5 separate regions of the Homo sapiens genome follow, and regions 2, 3, 4 and 5 are each linked to region 1. The links come from fine-mapping of genetic effects on gene expression. A gene starts in region 1. Each other region holds a variant in brackets. All regions are shown on one strand. Distances are between the middles of the regions.

What was found. PIP is the estimated chance that this variant, and not a neighbour inherited with it, causes the effect.
Region 2: its variant is fine-mapped to the expression of RIC1 in prefrontal cortex (CommonMind, PIP 0.95).
Region 3: its variant is fine-mapped to the expression of RIC1 in tibial nerve (GTEx, PIP 0.96).
Region 4: its variant is fine-mapped to the expression of RIC1 in whole blood (INTERVAL, PIP 0.92).
Region 5: its variant is fine-mapped to the expression of RIC1 in whole blood (TOPMed, PIP 0.97).

Annotation. Positions count from the first base shown.
Region 1 is chr9:5,626,591-5,631,697 of GRCh38, forward strand. RIC1 (RIC1 partner of RAB6A GEF complex) reads left to right here and starts at 2,517. Exons shown (of 26, transcript NM_020829.4): 1 at 2,517-2,863. The coding sequence starts at 2,720. INCR1 (interferon stimulated noncoding RNA 1) reads right to left here and starts at 3,137. Exons shown (of 3, transcript XR_007061406.1): 1 at 2,977-3,137. RefSeq lists enhancers at 707-926, 2,837-3,337 and a silencer at 2,277-2,816.
Region 2 is chr9:5,782,374-5,787,480 of GRCh38, forward strand. It overlaps ERMP1 (endoplasmic reticulum metallopeptidase 1), which reads right to left. Exons shown (of 15, transcript NM_024896.3): 14 at 5,057-5,107; 15 at 2,199-4,935. The coding sequence ends at 4,771. Among named protein-coding and RNA genes, the nearest start is that of ERMP1, 48 kb to the right of the region's middle. The variant G/GT (reference allele first, on the strand shown) is at 2,338.
Region 3 is chr9:5,698,876-5,703,982 of GRCh38, forward strand. The region is part of intron 3 of RIC1 (RIC1 partner of RAB6A GEF complex); the gene reads left to right. Among named protein-coding and RNA genes, the nearest start is that of INCR1, 72 kb to the left of the region's middle. The variant C/A (reference allele first, on the strand shown) is at 2,578.
Region 4 is chr9:5,669,668-5,674,774 of GRCh38, forward strand. All of the region lies in intron 2 of RIC1 (RIC1 partner of RAB6A GEF complex), which reads left to right. Among named protein-coding and RNA genes, the nearest start is that of INCR1, 42 kb to the left of the region's middle. The variant C/T (reference allele first, on the strand shown) is at 2,042.
Region 5 is chr9:5,890,547-5,895,653 of GRCh38, forward strand. It overlaps MLANA (melan-A), which reads left to right and starts at 343. Exons shown (of 5, transcript NM_005511.2): 1 at 343-390; 2 at 1,904-2,005. The coding sequence starts at 1,929. It also overlaps a transcript of BRD10 not described here. The variant A/G (reference allele first, on the strand shown) is at 2,313.

The DNA of each region.
Region 1 (5,107 bases):
TAATCCCAGCACTTTGGGAGGCCGAGGTGAGCGGATCACCTGAGGTCGGGAGTTCCAGATCAGCCTGACCAACATGGAGAAACCTCGTCTCTACTAAAAATACAAAATTAGCCAGGCATGTTGGTGCATGCCTGTAATCCCAACTACTCCAGAGGCTGAGGCAGGAGAATTGCTTGAACCCAGGAGGTGGAGGCTGCAGTGAGCTGAGATGGCACCATTGCACGCCAGCCTGGGCAACAAGAGCGAAACTCCACCTCAAAAAAAAAAAAAAAGAAAGAAATCACACTGGATCTGTAGAAAGAACATCAGTTCTTTTCAGGCCATGTGAATTCAGGCACATCTACCACACCTGTCCTGTTTCCTCACTTGAGAAAGTGAGAATAACAACATCACACCAATGTCACTCACCTTGAATGTTTACTATGAATTAAATCAAGACAAGCATTTGGAATTATTTTGTGAATCTTAAGTGCTACACAGGAGTGTGGCAGAGGAATAAGCTTCTAAAGTCAGCAAGTAAGGTTAAAATTGAGTGCAATAAAAATTGCTTAGAAGTTCCTTAAATTGCCCATGAGCACAGTATGACAAACTTGAGACACATGAGAACAAAGACTCTCTGAGAGACAGCTGGGACAAACATTCAGTAACACTGCCAGCAAAATTGCTGCACTAGAACATTTTCATTTCCTCTTTCTGCCAAGTGCATAACTGAATCTAAGATGAAAGTATGATGCAACTTTGTTATTCTACAATTTGAAATTGGCAAGTTAAGAAACCTCTCTGGGCCTCTTTGTCTAATGGTGTAGCTCAGCTGGATCAGGGTTTCCTCCACGGTTTGTCTGACAAATACTGCCAGCTTACTATGCTTACTATGTTCCAGGCTGCTGTGTTGGACTGGGGGAGGGTAGACGCCAAGGAGACAATCTGATCGCAACAGGCTGGTGAGTGGTGAGGCAGTTTCAACCTCCATTTGAGGAATACAGGATTCTATCATCACCTTCCAGGGAATGCAGTGAATGTTTAGAAAAATTACAGAAAGTTACATATTTGGTTATGAATACCAGCTACAATGCTATATCTAATATGAATTAAGTTTCTTTGTTTCCTTTTTTCTGTTTATGTTGCTACTTTTTTTTTTTTTTTTGAGACAGTCTCACTCTGTTGCCCAGGCTGGAGTGCAGTGGAGGGATCTTGGTTTGCTGCAACTTCCGCCTCCCAGGTTCAAGCGATTCTCCTGCCTTAGCCTCCTGAGGAACTGGGATTACAGGCACCTGCCACCACGCCCAGCTAATTTTTGTATTTTCAGTAAGACGGGGGTTTCACGATGTTGGCCAGGCTGGTCTCGAACTGCTTACCTAAAGTGATCTGCCCGCCTCGGCCTCCCAAAATGCTGGGATTACAGGCGTGAGCCCCAGCACCCCGCCTACGTTGCTACTTTTTAATGTGGGGTCATTTTTTAAACCTGGCTTTTTAATTGAAAAAGTAATACAAACATATGGAAAAATTCAAACTGTACTAAAAAAGGTAGACAATGAGAAGCAAATCTTTCTTCTATTTCAGACTCCTCCTTCCCCCATTCCACACCATATCCCCTCAACCCTCCTTCTATTCAGACGTTACCACTGGGTCAATCCGTTGAAAGTTACAGCTAAGGTGATACCTGGGGTCCAAAAGCTAAATATGGACCTACGCTATCACCAGTCCCTTCCAGTTCTAAAACTAAGTCCAAGCCTTTTGCAGCACGAAAGAGATAGCCTCCTCTCATCTAAAGTTATGGCTGGTAAGGCTGAGACGAATGGAAATGGATTTCAAAGACATAGATTTAGAACTCCTGAAAGGCAGGAGACAGAACTCAATACTTTCATGGTGAGTGGTTTATTTACTGATTAAATAAACGCTCCCTTAGGGATGTAAGCTCCACACCGGCAGGAGCTTCATCACCAGCTCTCACTGCAGACCCCGGCATTAAAGGAGCTCACACGGTAAAAGCCCCTACCGCCCACCACAGCCACAGCGGCCGGCAGCCCAAAGTGGGAAACCGCGCCGGCCGTCACGTGACTCCAGCTCCCCCCGGCAACCGGCCCGCCCCCACCGAGACCCCGCCAATCCGGAAGGGAGGTCCAATTTGGCCAGGCCAGGGCGTGTTCCACCGGCCCAGTAGCCTTGCTGCTGCGTTATCCCTAGACTCGCCCCACTTGCCTCGGAGTCTCAGGCCGTTGCCTAGGTCCTCCCGGTAAAACCCTGGAGACTGCTAGGGAGAGGAGCAAGGGAGGGGCCAGCGCGCAGAAGTGCGGACGCAACCCGGCGGCCGCGGGCGAGGCTTATGCAGAGCTTCAAGAAACAGCTAGGGAGACCGCAGGAGTCTCCAGAGCGCGCGCGCGGGCCCTCCCCGGCCCGACCCACGCGGCGCGGCGTGGTGACGCCCGCGCGGCCTGAGGAAGGGGCGGGGTCGGGGCGGGCCTCCGCGCTCCTCCCGCCCTCTCTGTGTCCCTACTCTCCCTCCCCTTCCCTCCCCCACACTCGGCCCCGTCAGCTTGGGGGTGCCTTCGTCGCGCAGCCTTGCGTCGGCCCGGCCCGGCCAGGCCAGCGGGCAGATGCCCCGAGCTGCCGCCGCCGCCGCCGCCGACTCGGCCGGTGGCGGTGTGGGAGGTGGGCGACCAGCCCGGGGCCGCTGAGTGTGACGGACGCAACTGGGGGCGCCGGGGGCTCCGCACGGACCATGTATTTTCTGAGCGGCTGGCCCAAGAGGCTGCTGTGCCCTCTGGGGAGCCCGGCCGAGGCGCCTTTCCACGTTCAGTCCGACCCGCAGAGGGCTTTCTTCGCCGTGCTGGCCGCGGCCCGCCTCAGCATCTGGTACAGCCGAGTAAGTAGAGCCGCCCGCCGCCTTTCGCCGCTGCCTCCCCGGCCTCCCGGCGCCGTCCCACCCCCAACTTCCACCCAGAGCCTAGGACTCCTGCCCCTTCGTGCCAGACCCACCTGCCTTCGCAGTCCGCGTCCTCGTTCCACCGAATTGGCCGCAGGTACCCGCCGGCTGCAGGCACGTCCTCCAGCCGGCGGTCCGGGGTGGATGAAGTCGCTGCTGCCGAAAATCCCTGAGCCTCCCCGCGTTGGACCGACGGCCGCGGCGTGCAGACTCCGCACGCTCCCCGGCCGAGCCCAGACTTGTTCTTCTCTCCCTTCCCCCATTCCCCGAGGGACAAATTTGTTTAAACTTTCCACAATTAGAAATCCGGCCGCTGTGGTGCCCCAACCCTCCCTTACTTTAAAGGTCGCCGTTTTGGAGTTAGGGAAAGCCTCTTGGGCTTTACCCAGCGCCAGACTTTACAGGCCTGTAATAACTTATTTCTACAAACTACAGCCTGAATTCTTTATTCTTCACTAAAGGTCTGGTTATTTAACTCCCCTCTTTAACCCCAACATCCCTTCCCCACTTTCGAGTTGGTCTTTTTCTTTGCTGCTGCTCTTGGACTCTTCGGAATAGGGGGTTAAAGGAGCGGAAGTAGAACTCAAATCTGTCCGCGGAACTCCCAGTTATAACACCTGGAAATAATAAGGCTTGGGAGGAGCATGGAACTGAATTCTGTTTTTGCTTTAAGTCCTGGTTATCTTTTTCTTTCTTGTATTGAATTACTGAGTAGATATGAGAAAGAAATAAGTGGTGGATGGGATACTCCCTACTCTCTGCAAACACTGCTATAACTTTGTCTATGAGAACGACAGAGTTCAGAGTATAAAAATGCTTTTTTTCCTCCCCAAAGAAGGCAGTACCAATCGATGTCAGAGTGAAGTTTTTCTCCTTTCCAAGTTAATTTGACCATGTGGGGATAGGTTGTGATCTTGTCCTTATTAGGTGTTCGTGAAATACTGGTTTTAGTTTGTTAAAATCCCCAAATCTTTGTGTGTTGCTGTTCCATTACCTGTAATGCCCTTGACAGTCCTCACCCACTTCCCTGGTAATACTGGTGATGGGATTTAGTGACGGGTAATTCTGGTGTCTCCTTTGACTGTCATAGTTGGGCTGTAAATCAGACTATTTGCCATCAAGTTTTGGCTGATCTAATTTTCAAATGCAAATCAGAACAAAACAAACTTATAAAATCGTAATACCAACAATATGACTATTTTGTCTAGTGCCTGATTGTATTTTGAATATATATGTATGTATGTGTGTGTGTATATATATAAACATATGTGTAAATATATATAAAGTATCATCTGGTTCCTAAATGAGATATTCGTTTACAATGTATATGCCAGTTGAATAATTTTTAATTTGTTTAGGTGTATATAACTCAACTTTAAAGCACATGCAGAAAAAAATAGAACTTGAATTTAAATTGTCTTTTGAATTTAATACATAATTCCTTTTGAATGTAACAAATTTAGACTTTCGTCTAAAATTTAACTTTTCTTACCTTTAAAAAGGCAGACCTAACTTAATTTTAAATAAAAGTAAACAATATGACCTATGAATTGACCAGAAGCCTGTAAACCACTTTATTCCCCCATAAGAGAAGCATAAACATATGCTTTAATTTAGGGACATTGTGAATATTCTTAAGCATGTCTATTGTTTGGTTTTGGAGTTACATACGACATCTAGAAATCCAAGGCAGTTCTGGAATTTAAACTATTCATACTCTTCTTTCAAATTCCCACCTCACATGCAACTTCCTTTTTCCACAGAAGTCCAGGGACCCCTACTATTAAGTTCTGTTGTGCAAAAGTTAGGCTGTAGGGAACCCATGGGTTTAGAGGTCTGGAGTGAAATGAAATGCAGGAATACCTTAGAGGAGGCTGTATAGTACTGTAGTATGAGTGGTTAACCTTGGTCTCTGGGCACCAGCTTTGTTGTCACTGAAAAAAATCAGATATTCACGAGGTCAAGAGATCGAGACCATCCTGGCCAACATGGTGAAATCCCGTCTCTACTAAAAATACAAAAAAATAGCTGGGCGTGGTGGTGCACGCCTATAGCCCCAGCTACTCGGGAGGCTGAGGCAGGAGAATCGCTTGAACCCAAGAGGCAGAGGTTGCAGTGAGCCAAGATCCCACCACTGCACTCCAGCCTGGCGACAGAGCAAGACTCTGTCTCAAAAAAAAAAAA
Region 2 (5,107 bases), 160 kb after region 1:
ATATTGTGAAAATGGCCATACTGCCCAAAGTAATTTACAAATTCAGTGCTATCCCCAACAAGCTACCATTGACTTTCTTCACAGAATTGAATAACTACTTTAAAGTTCATATGGAACCAAAAAAGAGCCCACATAGCCAAGACAATCCTAAGCAAAAAGAACAGTGCTGGAGACATCACGCTACTGACTTCAAACTATACTACAAGGCCACAGTAACAAAAACAGCATGGTACTGGTACCAAAACAAGATATATAGACCAGTGAAACAGAACAGAGACCTCAGAAATAATACCACACATCTACAACCATCTGATCTTTGACAAACCTGACAAAAACAAAGAATGGGGAAGGGATTCCCTATTTAATAAATGGTGTTGGGAAAACTAGCTAGCCATGTGCAGAAAGCTGACACTGGATCCCTTCCTTACACCTTATACAAAAATTAACTCAAGATGGATTAAAGACTTAAACGTAAGACATAAAAACCCTAGAAGAAAACCTAGGCAATACCATTCAGGACACAGGCATGGGCAAAGACTTCATGACTAAAACACCAAAAGCAATGGCAACAGAAGCCAAAATAGACAAATGGGATCTAATTAAAGAGCTTCCGCACAGCAAAAGAAACTAACATCAGAGTGAACGGGCAACCTACAGAATGGGAGAAAATTTTTGCAATCTATCCATCTGACAAAGGGCTAATACCAGAATCTACAAAGAACTTAAACTTACAAGAAAAAAAAAAAACATCAAAAAGTGGGCAAAGGGTATGAACAGACACTTCTCAAAAGAAGACATTTATGCAGCCAACAAACATATGAAAAATAAGCTCATCACCACTGGTCAGAGAAATGCAAATCAAAACTACAATGAGATACCATGTCACGCCAGTTAGAACGGCGATCATTAAAAAGTCAGGAAACAACAGATGCTAAAGAGGATGTGGAGAAATAGGAACTCTTTTACATTGTTGGTGGGAGTGTAAATTAGTCCAACCATTGTGGAAGACAGTGTGACGATTCCTCAAGGATCTAGAACTAGAAATATCATTTGACCCAGCCATCCCATTACTGGATATATACCCAAAGGACTATAAATCATTCCACTATAAAGACACATGCACATGTATGTTTACTGCAGCACTGTTCACGATAGCAAAGACTCAGAACCAACCCAAATGCCCATCATCAATGATAGACTGGATAAAGAAAATGTGGCACGTATGCACCATGGAATACTATGCAGCCCTAAAAATGGTTGAGTTCCTGTCCTTTGCAGGGACATGGATGAAGCTGGAAGCCATCATTCTCAGCAAACTAACACAAGAACAGAAAGCCAAACACCGCATGTTCTCACTCATAAGTGGGAGTTGAACAATGAGAACACATGGACACAGGGAGGGGAACATCACACACCAGAGCCTGTCAGAGGGTGGGGGGCTAGGGGAGGGACAGCATTAGGAGAAATACCTAATGTAGATGACAGGTTGATGGGTGCAGCAAACTGCCATGGCACATGTATACATATGTAACAAACCTGTACATTCCACACATGTACCCCAGAACTTAAAGTATAATTTTAAAAAATTTAAAAAGAGTCGTAACTGCATCTTGGCTAAAAACAAATGTAAATAGCCATAACTGCATCTTGACTTTATTGGCCCTAAAAGAAGAAGAGGAGTATTAGGTTAGAAGTTGTTCAGCTGCTTCACCTTGCATTGAACTGTTCTGAGAGAATTCACTCAAAGTTTAAATAACTTGCACAGAGATCTCTGAACTCAAAGTTCATGCTCTATTTTGGTGAGTGGTGGTGCCCTTTCCTTCTGTGGAGATTAGAATAAGCAATGAGTCACTCTGGCTGAAAGGCAACTTCTTCCCTCCCTCCTACCCTTACTCCCAAATAAAAGAACGCCCTTTACCCTTTGCTATTTTTTTGCTAATGGGGATGATTTAAAACTCCTACATAGGTGAAGCTCAACATTTACCTAATAATTTCTGTGAAATTCAGAAGTACCATTTCATTCTAAGATAAAGGATTCTAACTGAAGTAAACATTTCCATGTTGAGTTCTTTGCTCACATGAGCCATCTAGGTCTTTTAACAGCAATTAAAAGGCTCTGTGGACATGGAATAACCCTTGAAAATATGGGGATACAGAAGAACACAGATCTGTTTTTCAGTTAAAAAGATACCAACCAGTATATTAAACAGTTTATTTCAGTAACATTGTAAGGCAACAATTAATCCTCAGTAAGTCAGCAAACCAGTGACAAGAAATTGACAAACACTCCTTCTACAGCTTCCTGAGACAGCAGGCTGGCTTGTGGCCCCCTGGGTG[G/GT]TAACATCTTAAGGAATCCTATCATGTTTGTTTATATATGCTAAACTGTAAAAACAAACACTTCATGCGACAATCATTCTTAGGTCAAACACAAGAACGAACTATTTTGAAATCAATTCCTCACACTTTTTCCCTGAATATGCAGTACTGTACTACTAACATCTAATTCTGTAGAAAATAATGCATTTGTTAGTGACTTTGTTAGAGCTTGAAAAGACCCTTTTAGAAATTATTTAAATGATCACTCTTTAAAAATTTTTTTTAATCTCAGAATCTACTAATGTGACAGACAAACGGTATGCTTAACAGAGTCATAAATACTGTGTATAATTGCTTGACCATTTCTGGCATTTAAATGACCTCCCAGAATATTACACAAGCCCTGAGACTAGTGAGCATCTTACTACTGACCTTGTACAATACCAAAGCTTCATAATGCTAAAGAAAACCAAAACAAAAGACAATGGTTTACACAGGGAAATAACCCTAAGGCAATATGAAAACAGTCATAATTTATTACTGATAAAGAGTAAAGGCATCCTTCCCATAGAGGGGGGGAATTCACAGGGAACACTAATTATATCAGATGAACCACGGGGATAGAAAATAGGCCCATTTTTAAAATTCATTGAGAAATTATTACTTTTTCTCCACAACTGTGATTCTATACAAAATATAAACCCTGCAAACCTTATGTGCTACCTGACAGATAAAAGTAGCAGGAGCCAGACTCTTGAAGCACTTGAGACTGATTTCTACAAAGTCCAGGAAGAGCAATGATTCCAGTGTGCAGTGCTGATGCATGTGTGAGCCTAACATGTTATTCAGCTCTGGTTGCAGCCCCATCTACATGGGCCCAGTTAGTTTTTAGGGAGTCACAGATTAGGCAGGCAACGAGGGGCATGATTTAAAAAGCACATCATACACATGAGACAAGCAGCTTCAAGGACGTTTTCTCCGGCAATGCATACTTACTGTGCTCTTTCTATTCAGACAGATCCACAGACCACCTTTCAAGAGCATTCCTCTCTCATTTCCTCCATCACCCAAGATAAATCTAGCCACCCTTTTTTGTTAACTGTGCCTTTTCTTTCAACTTTTTGTCCTTGTTAAAACTCAAAATTTGTCCAACGTTTCACATTTCCTAATGATAAAAAGAAAGCTTGCACAGTTTACCATTGATCTCACCAATGCCCTCACTGCTGGAACCAAAAAGCCATGAGAGGTACTGCTGTGATACACCTTACAAGCTACATAGCCATCTTCAAAATGAAAACCACCTTTTAAGTCCTCATGCTGCCATTACGCAGGATCTGAACCACCTACACGTACAGTGGTCTCATTCCAGTATAAGCCACAACCTCAAGTCTCAGGAAAGCCAGTCTGCTGGATAGTAAGTTACTGAGAAAAACTAATCTATTCAACTGGCTGGAAAACAAAAAGATAGGCCCAGTGCATCAGTAAGATTATACCATGAAGGACTAACCTTGTATAACACAAGACTCCTATGAAACAAAGAAAAGAGAATAAATATTTATAAAATTCCCACCACTCCCAGCCTTCCTTCTACCCCAGAATAGCCCAGATGGCAGCTCAGTGCTCTGAGGAAGGAAGTTAAGGTCATGTACTGGCACAAACAATATTCTGAACCAAAAGAACCTACGAAAACCAGAGGGGTATGTGGCCAAATATTCCCCTTTTCAACTTGGTAAGATGGAGAGGGGTAACAGACATGTTTCAGAGGAAAACAGGCATAGAAAACCACCTCAGGAAAGCAGCACAGCAGTGCATCTGTGTGTCCACTTGTCAGGACAGTGAGTCACCAGCTCAGCACAGGGTCCAGGCCTCAGCACAGAGAGACAAAGCACATTTGAGAGGCTGCCTGAAGAAACAGCTTGACACAGGCTACAGCCTCAAGAGTGCAATGCTTCTCTCCCAGCCCTATGGCAATCACTTTCCAGTGACCTACACAGAGTTATATTCTCAAGGGGAATCATTACCTCAGTGAATGATATTTTACCCACCATCCACTAATACAACAAATGGTTTTGGGGCTTAAATTGGAAACAACTTTTGTCTCATTAACAATGCTCTGACAGTGTACATCTTTCTTGATCCTAAAGGGGCAGCTATTGAAGTGGATTGTTGGCTTTGTCCTTAAGGTCATATAAAATGACGTGTGTGTAGTGGCAGTACCCACATGTGCTGAAGTGCCAAAAGACTGGCATTTTCAAGTGTCAACAGGCCATGCATCACTGCGCCACAGCTAAACCCTTATAGTGCTTGGCCCTGAAAAGCGTTAACCCAGAAAGCTCTTTGAACATATGATCATTAAAATTCATTGACTTACGTTACAAACATCCACGTAACATAGGGAGAAACCATGTCACATGGAGTATCCACTGGGCATGTACTTAGAGCTCATCCACAAGATTAAAATACAAAGAGATCGTAGGTGCACACCCAGGCAGAGGGAAATGTCCAATCTGGGAACTTTTCCTTCAGAGCATCCAGTTGAGGGGATCTCTTGTCTTCCCCAGACAGATAGTGGGCAGCAATGGCCACGGTGACCATTCCTTCAGGATGTTCTTCTGAAACCTGCCAGAGAAAATCAATTAGTTCTCCAGTTCTCAGAAGCCAGAATACTGAACCCAAGGTTCTTGCTAAATACCACCTGGGAACCTAATCAATGAAACAAACAATGCTGGGAAATTGGCACCTGCACTTCTATCCAGAACTGCCATGCAGAGGCCTGGAGTCCATGGGAGTA
Region 3 (5,107 bases), 72 kb after region 1:
GGGATTCTAGTTCATTAACTGCGAGGTTTTAGAGTGAACTAGAATTTGAAGAATGACAAAACTTTAAGAGGTTGCCAAAAAATACAGGTGTACTTGTTCAAAAGCAAGTCTCAGATTGAGTCATGTATCAAATGTAAGCAATAACAGACTTGACTCCTCTGGGGAACTTAGGCAGAGTATTCATTTATACAATACTTGAAAATTCCAAGTATTAACAAAGATAGCTTCTTTAATATAGCGAGAAACTCCTTACATCATATCCTTGAATAATGTCATAACATCGATGAGGGAAAAAAATTGATCCCTGGCCAGGGCCACTGTCAATATGGAATTTTCATATTCTCCCTATGTCTGTGTAGTACTGTAGTTTCCTCCCACATCCCAAAGATGTACGCTTTGGGTGAATCAGCATCTGCATGGCCCCAGTCTGAGCGAGTGTGGGGTATGTGTGTGAGTGCGCCCTCCAATGGAATGACATCTGGTCCAAGGTGGGCTTCAGCTTTGGCCCCAAGCTGCTGGGATGGGCCGTGGCCACCTGCAATTCTGAACTGGAATTAGTGGGTAAATGTTTTTATTCATCTTTCTTAAATGTATGTATAGCTTACATTTATTTCAATGTCTTTTTTTTTTTTTCAAAAAACTGTTTGTATATTGCATATATAACTAAAATATAAAAGCAACATTTTATAAAACTTTCTAGAGAGACAAATTCCACACAAGTGGTAAGGGCAACCTAGTGTCTCTAGATTTGTTCTGTTTCATAAATTGGATTTTAACAAATCCTATGTAAATCAATTTTTGTAAATAAAATGTAATTGTTGGATTTTTCACATGTTAGATTTTTGCAATAATCTGAGATTTACAACACTTTCTGATGTATGTTCACTCTGATTCTGAAACTAAATTATATTATTGGATTTCATATACAGTATTAAAATTAGTGGTGGTTTACCAAGATTAAACTTTAAAGCATATCTGAAAGTTATCTATCTGTAAATAAGACAAATTGTCTACAGAATTAGTTTTATATAGTCAGTGATGTGTAAACCTCTTGGCTTTAAGAACCACAACAACTTTGAATGCATTAAGAAAACTGTCACACAATTGATCCGAAACTGCATTAAGAAAAAAATTCCTACTTTTTTTTTTTTTTTTCCTTTCACTGGTTTCTTGTCTCTCAGGGTCATCGTTCCATGGGCTGTCCCCACCCAACCCCACCAAGTTTCCTTCATTGACATTTCTGTTCTTTCCTTCACAAATTCTGCCATGGCTTGTAGGGAGAGCACCTGATTAACCAATACTGAGCTGGGAATGACCGACACTTCTTAGCTAGTTCTATAAATTTTGTTAGTTTGTTTTTGTTAGCCCCAGTTAATCTCAAATAGATAGAAATTTAGAACATTATTGAGGGGATTATAATGGGATTAATCCCTTTTGCCTATCCCATAATGTATTCAGCTGTTTCATTTCTTTTTGTTCATTTGTGATTTTGTGTTTTCAAAGTAAAAAATCTGAATATTTATTTAGAGTTTACTTTGGATTAAAAATATTCAATTTATTAGAGCTTCAAAATAATAACTGTAGCTCAAACTTTTAAGTTCCATCTACAAATCTTAAAAATCTATTCGTAAATCTAGCAAATTTCAACACTTTTAGAGGGGAATCTTACAAATTAAATTCTCTTACGTATATTAATGTATATTTATAAATATGCCTTATAAATATATAATAAATTATATATTTTGTTTCTTCTTAAAATACTTGAATTGTCTAACAAGCTTTGTACCATTTCATGAGCAGGTATTTTTGCCAAAGCATGATATATGCATTGTGTAAACACCTTCATTCTGCACAAGTGCACACTAAAAACAAAGCTTGTGGGAAAATCGTTGGAACAGATCACTTAAAACTTCCTATAACTTTGAACTAGAGGAGTCACAAATAATAATCTTAATAAAAGTTAGAAAATAATTAAATTTTTTCTTTTCCATGTAGTTTCACAAAGACAACTGCAAGTTATAAATATTTTTTTTCAAATAAGTATAATTTCCTACTGCTTCCCTACTCTTCACATTCTTTTCCCCAGTTAGCTTACCTAGCTTTTAGTTCAGATTCTTCTCAGAATCGTATGGTCAAAGTCTGGTGTTTAATTTCCCTTCATGTTTCTTCTCAAAATTTATCAAAACTATCACTATGACTTAAGTTGGCTGGGTTCTATTTCATTAGTGCAAGTAAACAATAACTTGTTATCACCCATTTGTGGTAAAACTGTGGTATAGCTGGCTCTTCTGTTTGAGACCTATAGAAAAGCTCTGAATGTTTTTTTTCTTTCATGAGTGGATGTGTACATAGCACTCCTGATGGAGATATTTATCTTTTTTATGGGCATCTATATTGAATCCTTTGGAGTATATCGATTTAAATGCAAAGTGTAGCTTAGAAATAAATGTTTGGGCTGGGTGAGGTGGCTCACGCCTGCAATCTCAGCACTTTGGGAGGCCCAAGGCGGGTGGATCACTTGAGGTCGGGAGTTCAAGACCAGCCTGACCAACATAGCAGAACCCCCGTCTCTACTAA[C/A]AATACAAAAATTAGCTGGTGTGGTAATCCCGGCTACTCAGGAGGCTGAAGCAAATTGCTTGAACTGGGAGGTGGACATTGCAGTTTGCCGAGATTGCACCACTGCACTCCAGCCTGGGTGACAGAGCAAGACTCCATTTAAAAAAAAAAAAAAAGAAAAGTTCAGTTACATTTTCTCTTGAAAATTCAGGTTTTTGTTTTCTATCCATCTTCCTTACCTTGTATAGTTTAACTTAACTTTTGCTCTGTATAATTCGTACTATAACATTAGTATGAATATGGTAGGTAGTGCATGTCAAATCTATTATCTGTTCTTCCAAACAATTTTGCTTTTAGTGAGAAAACCATCATAATTAAAATATTGAAGCTGGTTAGTTTCTCAAGCACATGACTGGGATCAAAAGCAAAGGAGTAACTGTTAACATTTAATACACTCAAAATGTCAAAAAACATACGTGCATACATCCCACTTATGCAGGGATCCACGTATTAAACATCATCAATTGCCTGGAATAGCTAAGACTCAGGAAATAAGGCCTCCAAGGGGACACTCATCTTTACTCATTTAAGACATTTGTTGGTTTTGGGCTATATACAAGGCAATGGTGTGAATTAGAGTTGATTTTTTCCCAGTCTGAAGCTCATAGTTTATTAAGGGGACAAAAGCTAAATTCAGATAATATCAAATATACTGTAAAAGTGATGTGTACTCTAAAGGAGCTACAGATAAATAGCTTTGGGAGGCAGTTTAGAAAGGGAATATACTTTCAGTGTATTATTGAGGAATTCTTTGTAAAGAGAGTAGCATCTGAGCTGAGTCATGAGGTATATTAGTCTATTCTCACACTGCCATAAATAAACACCTAAGACTGGGTAATTTATAAAGAAAAGAGGTTTAATTGGTTCACAGTTCCGCAGGCTATACAGGAAGAATGGCTGGGGAGGCCTCAGGAAACTTACAGTCATGACAGAAGGAGAAGGGGAAGCAGGCACCTCTTACACGGCCAGAGCAGGAAGCCGGGGAGAGGTGCTACACACTTACACACTTTTTTTTTGTTTTGTTTTGTTTTTGTTTTTGTTTTTGTTTTTGTTTGTTTGTTTGTTTGAGACAGAGTCTCACTCTGTTGCCAGGCTGGAGTGCAGTGGCACCATCTCGGCTCACTGCAACCTCCGCCTCCCGGGTTGAAGCAATTCTCCTGCTTCAGCCTCCTGAGTAGCTGGGACTACAGGCACACGCCGCCATGCCCGGCTAATTTTTTTTGTGTGTGTATTTTAGTGGAGACAGGCTTTCACCCTGTTGCCCAGGCTGGTCTCGAACTCCTGAGCTCAGGCATTCTGCCCGACTTGGCCTCCCAAAGTGCTAGGATTACAGGCGTGAGCCACTGCATGCAACTGAGCTACACACTTTTAAACAACCAGATCTCACGATAACTTACTATCACAAGAACAGCACCAAAGGGGAAATTGCCCTCATGATCCAGTCACCTCCCACCAGGCCCCACCTCCAACGTTGGGGATTACAATTTGACATAAGATTTGTGTAGGGACAGAGACCCAAACCATGTAATTCCACCCTTGTCCCCTGCCAAATCTCATGTCTTTCTCACATTTAAAATACAATCATGCCTTCACAAGAGTCCCCCAAAGTCTGAACCCATTCCAGCATTAACTCAAAAGTCCGAAGTCTCATCTGAGACAAAACTAGTCTCTTCTGCCTATGAGCCTGTAAAATCAAAAACAAGTTAATAACTTCCAAGATACAATGGGAATACAGACATTGGTTAATACTCCCGTTCCGAAAGGGAAGAATCAGCCAAAAGAAAGGGACTATAAGCCCCGTGCAGATCTGAAACACAGTAGGGCAGTCATTAATTCTTAAAGCTCCAAAATAACCTCCTTTGACTCCATGTCTCACATAGCATTAAGTACATTTACAGTGTTTTGTACAACTATCACAATTACCTAGTTCCAGAACTTTTACATCACTCCAGGCAGAAACCATGGATTCATTAAGCAGTCATTCCCTGTTCTCTTCTGCTCTCAGCCCCTAGAACCATACATTTGTTTCTTGTCTGTGTCTCTCTGGATTTGCCTATTCTGGATACACTATATAAATATAATACAGCATGTACCTTTTGTGTCTTATTTAATTGCTGGATACTTTGTATAAATGGAATCACACACTATGTACCTTTTGTGTCTTCTTAATGTAATGTTTTCAAGGTTAATTCGTGTTTTAGCATGTATCAGTACTTCGTTTCTTTTATGGCTGAATAATATTTTGTTATATGGATTTACCACAGGGTGTTTATCCATGAATCAGGTGATGGCCATTGAGGTTGTTTTCACTTTTTGGCTATTGGAACAGTCCTGCTATGACTAGGAGTGTTCATAGCAGTTGTTCATGTACAATTTGTATTTGAACACCTGTTTTCAATTATTTTTGGGTATATACCTGGAAGTAGAATTGCTAGGTTACATGGTAATTCTATGTTTAACTTTTTGAGAAACTGCCAGACTGTTTTCCCAC
Region 4 (5,107 bases), 43 kb after region 1:
GACTATCGCAGTATATATAGGGAACACTGCAGTGGGTTCTTGCAGTGGCAAAGAGAGATTGGGCTCACTTCTTCAGCATGGGCAAGTGGGAATTTATAGCCAAGGAGCAGTGTGGGAGTCAATGGATAGAAAATTAATAAGAGGAAACATCAGGGGTAATGGGGATTCTGGCTAAAACAACAGGATTCTTGCTGAAGACAGACCAGGGTGATCAGACATCACTTAGGGGAGATTGGAGGATGAGCCACCTAATCAGATATCAAGTGTGGGGGTCTTGCTAAACTGGATTTTATAAGGAAATGCACAGATGGACCTAAGAGAAGAAGGTTCAGGAGCCTGACTAAAGTTTGACTAAGCACAGAATCTTTGTCACTGGTTATGTGTTTGAGGCACATCAGGTCTCCAGTTAGTATGGATACCTGTGCATCTCACAAATACAGGAAATTTTACTTTGCCTGTATGAAGTTTGCTTTCGAGCCCTTGAGCCCCTTCTGCAGCTTCTAAGTTCAGCAGATGTCTTGTGGGAAAAATTGGCTGTGGAGTTGAGGCATTTCAAGTCTGATTATTTCTTCAACCCTATGTAACTGCCAAGAGCTTTGCTGATTTTTCTTTGCTCCAGCAGGCGTCTGCCTGAACTAAGTCTGCTGCTTTCTTAGCCTGTGCCCAGAATTGGTGAATGCTCTTAGGGGAAAAAAAATCAGCTTACTTCTGAACAGCCCTCCTACTATGAATTTTAATCAGTCTAGGCCTTATTGATTCCATAGCTTGCCTGATGCCTTTAAAAATATAATTTTTTATGTTTTCTGCCTTTTTCTAGCTGTTGGGAGAGTTGGTCTGCCATGACCTACTTATTGTATATTACTGTGCAGTAGAATTCTTAACCATGTAATATAAAATTGCCTTAATACTCCTTTTATGATTTTTTGAGTCATTTCATTTTTATATATAAAATCCAAAGCATTATATAAAGATGGAATGAGCCCAGATATATCCATTAAAACTATTGTAACTGCCCAACAGTTTCGTTTTGCCTGCTGCCTGAATACAATTGATTTATCAAGACAGAGGAATTGCAATAGAGAAAGTTTAATTCATGAAGAGCTGGCTGAACAGAAGCGCCATAGTTTTATTATTCAAATAAGTCTTCCCCAATATTTGGAGGCTAGGGTTTTTCAAGGATAGTTTGGTGGGGCAGGGAATGGGTGCTGCTGATTGGTTAGGGAGGCAGTCAGAGGTGTGGAAAATGGTCTTCATGTCGAGTCCACTTCTGAGTAGGACCACAGGACCAGGACCAGTTGGTGGGTCCACGTGGAGCCCTCCGCCGTCAGAAATGCAAAAACCTGAGAAGGTATCTGAAAAGGCCAATCTTAGGTTCTACAGTAGTGATGTTACCTGCAGGAGTAATTGGGGAAGTTGCAAATCTTGTGACCTCTGGAATAATGACTGGTAATTGTTTACATTTACACTTTAGCAGAATTCAGGCTCCTCTCCTCCTCCTAATGTCTTGCTAAACAGATGATACAAAAATATCAGTGACCTTTCTAAACTATTACCAAATAATACAGAGATGGCTCTCTGTATTATTTATTTTATTATTATTATTATTATTTTTTTTTTTTTGAGACGGCATCTTGCTCTGTCACCCAGACTGGAGTGGAGTGGCGCAGCGCAATCTCTGCTCACTGCAACCTCCGCCTCCCAGGTTCAAGCAGTTCTCCCTGCCTTACCCTCCCAAGTAGTTGGGATTACAGGTGCTCGCCACCAGGCCCAACTAATTTTTGTATTCTTAGTAGCGACAGGGTTTTGCCATGTTGGCCAGGCTGGTCTCTAACTCCTGACCTCAGGTGACCCGCCTGCCCCGGCCTCCCGAAGTGTTGGGATTATGGGCATGAGTCACTGCACCCAGCCTGTATTATTTTATATCATAATGAAAGAAATGAAAATAAAAAAGAACCTGTTTTGCAGGCAGAGGCTACAAAAACTTTGAACAACTAGTAGAAATGGTTTAAGTTAATTTCTAAATTCTGAGAAGATAGAAGGA[C/T]TAAGCCCCCATTCCTAACTCCTCTCCTCTTCTCAGGAGTATAAACATGAGCCTAAAGTCAGAATCATCAAGATATCAAGTTCTTTAGGGAAAGAATAGGTGCTGAAGGACCAGGCAGAGGGAAAGGTTTGCTTTGCCACTCCTTAAGGCACTGAGACAGGATCTGAGATTTCACAGTTCTCTAAGTGAGCTTAAAAAAGTGGAATCCTGTGGTTTCCCTTCAGAAAAGGGAGGACTGTGTCTGCTCCTGGAAGTGGACATTAGCAGGGCTTCCCATAAAACTCTGTTAACTGCTGCGGACTTAGAGTAGAGGTTGCACAGGTGAACTCAGTTGCTGCCACACCTCATGGTCTGAGGAAGCCGGCCCTTCTACTCAGAGACAGTGCCTGAGAGGAGACTGCTGAAGCCTCAGCTCAGCAGTATGTGAGCTTGTCTGCCTCTGCAAACTGTCACTTTATCCAGCATCTGTAGGTTTGCATTGCCAGATACCCACATCAAAGCCTAACCTCTACAGGTGGCTAATGGAACACAGCAAAGAAAAAAACCACTAAGGGAGCTCATTAACTTTACGATGTAAGACCAAACTAAACAAGTAAAATATGTGGCTCCTATTGATGAGCCACAGGGATGAGACAGAAGAATGTAGTAAATTAAGAAAAAAATTACTAAGAACTTTCAGAAAATGTAATTAGAACATAATCAGGATTTTTCAGAGCTAAAAATTTCCTAAGAGAAAAATTCAACAGATGAACTGATAAATAACCCCTTGTGAGAGCTGAATCTTTTGTTCCAGAAGATCAAATAGAAACAATTTCATGATGTAAGGCATATAGAAATAAAATTATTTTTGAAAAGATAAGAGACCTGCAGGAGCAAATTCAAGAGGTTTGGGAATGAGTGTTATAGAAAGAAAACAAGACAGAACAAGTATTAGTTTAGGAAATAATAGAAGAAACTTACCTAGTTTAGAAACATTGAAGGTTGTCAGATTGAAAAGGCTGAGACTTAGATACATTTGATTGCGGGTGGGGCTATGTGGAAAAAGTTTAATGAAAAAACGTACATATCTAGAGATAATGTGCAGAAATAACTGAATTTCAGTCATGAGAAAAATCATTCAGAGAAAAGGGAAAGAGAATCACATTGACAATAGACTTCTCACTACTAACCCTGGAAACTTAAGGGAACATTAGAACAACATCTCATAGCCATGAAAAAAGAATCTCTAACAATCCTGTACCTAGACAGGATGTCCTTTATCTCGGTTAAGTAACGGTATGTTCGGATAATTTATTTCGTTTAATAAGGGAATGCCTTGGTATTGGAGCTACAGTGAACAGGACAAGCAAGTGGACATGTAACTAATTCCTAGGTTAGTGAGAGATAGGTGATAAACAAGTTTAGACAAGAAAATGAAACGTGATGACCATACCATCCATGTTAGGTATATGCAATGCTTAGGGACAATTATTATCTGTATTAATATTCATATTAATAAAAACTTCCTATGGAAGACCATCCTATTGAAAAATGGACGAACAAGGCAACTTGCAGAAGGAGAAGTATGAAGAGCCAATAAAAATGAAAAGATAAGCATCACTAGCAAGGAAACAAATGGAAATTAAAATAAGACCATTTTTCACCAATCTAATGCAGGCATAAACAGGAATTCTAGGAACAAGTAGAGTGTTACTGGGAATTAATGTAATTTTTTGGATAAATTTGGCAATACATATTAAAATGAATGTACATACATACACTTTGACTTGGCAATCCTACTTAAGGGAAGGTACCCCACAAAATATATATGCACCAAAACATAAGGAGATATATATATATATATATATATAAATAAATGTTGATTGCAGCATTGTCTGTAGTTGCCAAAGGTCCATCAAGAAAAGAATAGCAAAGTAAATAAGAAACTTCCATACTTTGGAATATCACACAAATACTAAAAATAGTAGTAAGTGTATCTATGAATGTGGAAGAACAGTCAGAAAACACTAAGTGAAAAAAATCAAATTGCATGGTAATGTGTAAATTAAGATTCCAATTTTGTGTGAAAATGATAAAAGTTCCTGTATATATTTATCAGTTTAAAAATTTACTCATTTCTGAGTTAGAATCCAATGCAGACATTTAAAATCAAGTTACAGAAGAATGTTAAGTTTATACAACATTTGTGATAAAATAATGTCATAAAAGCAGATTATAAAACTGTATGATAGCTTTATATAAAGAAAAAAATTGTATTTTAGATAACCCTCTACTTAAGAAACTAACAGATTTATCAACTGTGCTCGTCATAACCAGTTACATTAGCAGGCATTTACAGTATCATCAGTTTGGATTTAAAAACAGACTTCAGCAGAAGTCTAATATGCTGTAAAATATAAGAGTTTGTGCAAATGTCCCTGGAAAAGACATAAGGACTACATAAAAATTGATAATGATTATCTGTGAATGGTGAAACTATTGGCAGTTTATTTTTGTTACTTTCTGTGTTTCTTGGGTTTTCTTCATTGAACATGGAGAAATTTGTCATTCATAAAAAAAAAATTTAACAAAAATTCATTTATGATCCTGTATGAATTTTAAAATTCATATAAGCTAAAATGTTAATTCATGTTTTAAATAGCCCAAGTAAGGATGAATTAAATTACTAGAAGCAGGTCAGCATTTACTCAATATATTTAATATAAGCCAGATTACTATGACTAATATTATATTTATCTTAACATCTCCACAAAGTTCTAGAAATAAGACGGTGGTGAAAGGATAATAAAAACTCAGGACCCCAATTCACCACTCCAAAAGGGAAAAAATAAGCTGAAAGCCCAGTCATGCAAGAAACTGCCTTTCCTTTTGTTCCTGAGCTGATAACTACAGATAAAAGGTTAGGTTACCTACTCCACAAGTAGCTACTTATGTTCACCATATCTTATGTAAAGTGCCTGTTTAATGATGCCAGACGAATACATAATTGACTATTCCCCTACCTGCTCTTTTCTCTTGGAACTTGTGGATTACCATACCCTCCTTCTCTCCCCTCCAGCCCACTTT
Region 5 (5,107 bases), 260 kb after region 1:
CTTAGACATCAATTAGGTTGGTGCAAAAGTAATTGTGGTGTCGGACCATGAATTTTAAATCATTATAACTAGGCTCATGTCATATTTTATGTGACATGGCAATCCTATGGAGGAGGGACCAACATTTAAAATAAATGGCTTCCCTAGGATAGAGCACTGGGACTGGGGAAAACAGAGGCCACAGTCAGCTGTGACTTTTTGAAGGAAGGAATAAAGTTGGTTTCTTTCATGCCAATTTAGCAATTACAGACGACCCCGTCAGAAATCTAAACCCGTGACTATCATGGGACTCAAAACCAGGAAAAAAAATAAGTCAAAACGATTAAGAGCCAGAGAAGCAGTCTTCATACACGCGGCCAGCCAGCAGACAGAGGACTCTCATTAAGGAAGGTAAGAGCGTTGCCTTCTCGCCATAATCATAGTCCTCTTCTCCCAGAATAGGATTTGGGAAATTCTGGCTAAGTCCTCTGCCTACCCTCATTGCCCCGCTGATGTGTGACATCAACAGAATTTCTCCGCAACGTTTGTCAGTCTCCAACCTCAGAGGGCTCACAAAGCCTCCTCCTGAATCCTCTCTCAGTCCTCCAACACTACCAAGAAGAAAAGCAATTATTCAGGATGGCATCTTGCTGGGGAGAAGCAGCCTCCCTGAGGTAGATGTGTTCTCCTGTCACTTAAAGAACCACTTCTCCTGGTCTGAGTAGTAAGAGGCGCATTTGCTGTTGCTGCACCATTTGCCAAGGCTCTGAGTTTGAGGTATGGGATGTATTAAAACAATTTAATGAAGAATTAAGATTCCATTCTGTCATTTTGAACACAGGGTTCAGTCCTATATTATTCACTTGAGAGGACTGGTGAGTTTGACTTTCATTTCTTTTTTACAACTGGGAAGGGCAAATTACACATAAAATGTCCCAGTGGAAAGGGGTCATGTGTCGAAATCCCCACTCTTCTGTCTCACCTCTCCCTGTTGTTTTAAACTGGGGCTCATTAATATAATTCTATGGGGATCACACCTTTGAAATTCATGAGGACAGTAAGAGAGCAGAAAAATACACAATAATAAGGAAAGGAGCTTCCATTATTGGTTTTTAATGAGCGTACTTGAATTACGGCCACTGCAGTTTATGGATATTTTTTGTTGTTCATTTGTATGTGTTATAGTTAGAAAAAAAAAGAATCCTAGCCAAGGGACTTGAACCAGAGAGAAGCAGAAATTGACTTAAGTAGGAAGGGAAACACATTGTTAGATAAAGTCAGGTCCTGGGCTTCCTCGGCTTGTTTTGGGTGGAGTGCCTGGGGACAGGCTGAAGCCCCTGTGTGGGGTGGTTTCCTTTGCTGAAAAGCTGGGCTGGAAGATGTTGTGCTCAGTGCTCAACCTCATGCACCCTCGCGAGGCACAGGCAACGGGTGCTCTGGGAAACACACGTTATGTATCATAGCCTCTGTTTGTCTGTGGGATTGATATCCAACAATAACTTTGGAGAAAAATAACTCCTCTAATTTTGTTAGCCACAGCCCTGGGCCAGGGAAGGTGGAGAATCAGTGAAAATGCATTTTGTTTGTTTCTCTAGAAGTTTATGGTGCAGAGTCAAATTGAAGGCAAATGAGGAATATTTTTTCACCAAATAATAACTCAACTTGCAAGTCTTTTTTGCTTTTGTTTGTAGTTTCTTCTTTGAACTTAATTTTCAGTTAGTAGGAGGGGTTAGAAACCTGAGCTATTGCTAAAGCCCTTGATATGAATGAAAGAAGCAGGTGCAAATCCCCTCACAGAGAGAAACCAAAGGGTCCTGGCTATGGATATTGGTCACCTAGTGAGGATGCTGTTGTGGGTCTTTATGAGATGATGAATAGGGTGGCTTTGGATGCATTAATGATGCCCACATGCTCCTTCTGTTAGGTGTCCTGTGCCCTGACCCTACAAGATGCCAAGAGAAGATGCTCACTTCATCTATGGTTACCCCAAGAAGGGGCACGGCCACTCTTACACCACGGCTGAAGAGTAAGTTCAAAACCAGACCCAGCAGGGCTTCCAGTTTGCCGTTTGCTGACACAGCCTGCTGACTTCCACCAGTACATGCCTGCTCGTAAATCTCCCTAGTGTTTATCTCCCCAGACAGTAACATCCCTGGCAACAAGGGGAGGAGATTCTGTGCTTCTATAAGGGGCTCAGTCAAGCTTCTCTGAGGCCAAACAGGCAGGAAGATGGGAATGGTATAAGGTTGGATCTTGCCATTTTTGGGTGCACTTTTGACTATTGGGTCTTATCTGTAGGTTCCCAAGTGGAAAAACATCTGTTCAGGATCACA[A/G]TGCCTCTCTCCTCAATCCTTGTTCTGTCTCCTCCACTCAAATTCCTGAAGGTGGTTTGCAGACAGAATAAAAGTGAGTTGCCAAGGAGCCAGTAAGGATGACGGGCAGGTGTGTGTGACTCAGCCCACAGCCAGACTCGAGAGGAAGATGGAGGTCACAGCCTTTGCAGTATAACTTTATCCTAAGGAAAGACATTGGGTTTTATGAGTGAATTAAAAATAAGTATTTATATGATTAAGCATTTCTAAATGCTAAGCATTGTATACTGGCGTGAGACACTGTTTTTATCTTTGAAAAAACTCACAACTTAGTGGGAGAGTTAGGCATGAGATTAATTTCAGCAAATGTAAGTGCGGTAATGAAAACCCAGAGGCTGCAGGGACATACTCTGTATGTGCTGGGAGTGGGAAAGGGACATACTCTGTACGTGCTGGGTGGCAGGGGCAGGGGAGGCCCCACCCTCTGCGTGGGACTCTAACAGGACAACACCCTCTTATGTGGTCTGTCCAGAACTCCCTGTGAACCTGCTCTTTCTTTGGAAAGAGCTGTTGAACAATCTTTGTTAACAGTCAACCGCAGGGACCAGCAAGATGTAAAGCCCAACAAAGGCACTGAGGAAGAGTTCAGGCAGACAGCATTTCCTCAGAAGACCCTGGTATAGGATCCTCTAATATCCCTGGCCAATTGGAGATGAGGGCGGCGGTATCTTCTCAGAAAATGTCCTGACAGCAAAAACATACTCTTTGAGGGAGGGGAGCCCATTGCCCGTGCTATTAGTTAGGGTATCGTTTCAGCTTGTGTATAATCACTCAACAGACTCTTTAAAATATACTTTTATGTCTCGTGTAAAAATTCAAGAGTAAAGAGTTCAAGGCCTGTTCGTTTTCTTCTTGCTGGTTACTCCCTTGGGATGTCACTTTTGTCCCCATGGCTGAAGATGTTGTGCCATCACCTCCACATCTTGCCAACAGAAAGCAGGAGGTGAAGGAGAGGCTAGGACCGTTCCTTTCAAGGGGCACACGTCACTTCTGCTTATTGCTCCACCCCCGCCCCCCGCCCCGTGGCACCCACCCTGGTGGGTATCATTCTTGCTGTGTTGTAAATGAAGAAAGGTTTAGAGAAATTAGGAAATGTGTGGCCAGACATGGTGGCGCTGGGATTTAAATCCAGGTCTGTTTGCCTCCAGAGTCCATGCTCTTAAGTGTTATGCTGCAGGCCAGCAGAGGCAAATATTTGCACAATCCCATCCGACGAGAGGCTAGGGCAGAGGTCAGTATCTCTCAGTGTGAAGCTGGAGGCTGATGCTAGTCAGCTCAGTAGGCCGAAAGTGGAGTTGTCCTTTGCCATGTAGGGCCATCATGCCCAGCTGGGGAACCTCATAGCCAGGTGTACCCACAACCTGAACAAGGTAACTTTCAGGGTCTAGTCAGGAAGAAACCAACTAGATGGTTCAACATAGAGACTTTAATATAAGAAGCTGGTTAAACAGGCATGGGACTGAGACTGAGGAGGCAAAGAAGGCATCGGGGCAACCAAGGCTGTACCCACAGAATGCTGCTTCTACCCCCGTGTCTGGGGTAACAAACGGAAGGGTGAGGCCATCAGGACCTAGAGTTGGGAGGAGGGACGCCACAGAAATGGGACCCAGATCTCTAAGGAGAGATTTTTGTTTGGCTGGTTCTGGTGTCTCAAGAGCTTAGAAGTGAGGGGCATGAATCAAATACTCAGGCCTCTGAGGTCAGCCAGTGCTCTGCTGGGGAGGGGCATAATGAAGCTGGCTCTGACAATGCCGGAAAACGAGCTGGTGCTTGGCATATACAGACAATGTGAGCATTGCTGGGGTGATCCTGACAGGAGCCAGAAGCACACTGGAAGGAGCTGCTCCTTCTTGATGCCCCAGGTTTGTAGGCACCCTCTAGAGTACTCTAATGGGAGCCAGTGGGCAAAGGAGAAGTGGCATTTGCAGAGTCCAGTCCCAGCATCACAGAGCAGAGCATAGAAAGGTAGGTTTGGAGTTGAGGGACAATGGCTTAATAAAGGGCAAAGGGGGTTATGACCACTATCATGTGAAGGAACCCCTTGACTGAAGGCACAAGCTTTCTGTGTCTTGCAACCTGAATGACGTGCATAAGCAGGGTCAGGTGGGTTATCTGACATTTTCCTTGAGAACAAGAGGGAGCCTCTGGATTCCAGCACAAAAGAAAAATACCCACTCAACCCGTATGCGTGGGAGCTATCCTTTAAAGAGAAAGTAATTCCTTTTGACATTTTGCTGTCTGTAGAAGGGTCAGATGGCCAAAGCTTCCAGCACAATGAAACACTTAACTTCAGTCTGTGAGTGTAGGAACCCCTGAATACATGGAACATCATCATCTTGTGCAGGTACTGAAGGAGATCGGTCCAGAAAATAAGTAACTGCACATGGCCACCAATGTCAAAAGTCATTCCTCTCATGAAAAGTCCCTGCCCCCATTGCTGTTTGTTTAAATAGGTGGGATGGAGGTAGGGGAATGGGGCCATCTTCTTTTTTTTTTTTTAATTTTTTTGCATAAAATCCAGATCCTGCACAATGGGGCAATCTTCATTAAAACAATGCATCCCTAAGATCTGAGAATATTTATCCTTCTCACAATTGTGCCAGCAGGTGGAATGAAGAAGAATGATGCAAAATAAGTTCCCACATCCAGCCAAGAAGGACTACATACCTGCTTTGGGTATTATGTATCTCTTTGAAACCTCAGTGGAGAGCAGTTCTCACAGTTGGGTGGACACAAGTCATCCATGGAACTTGTTA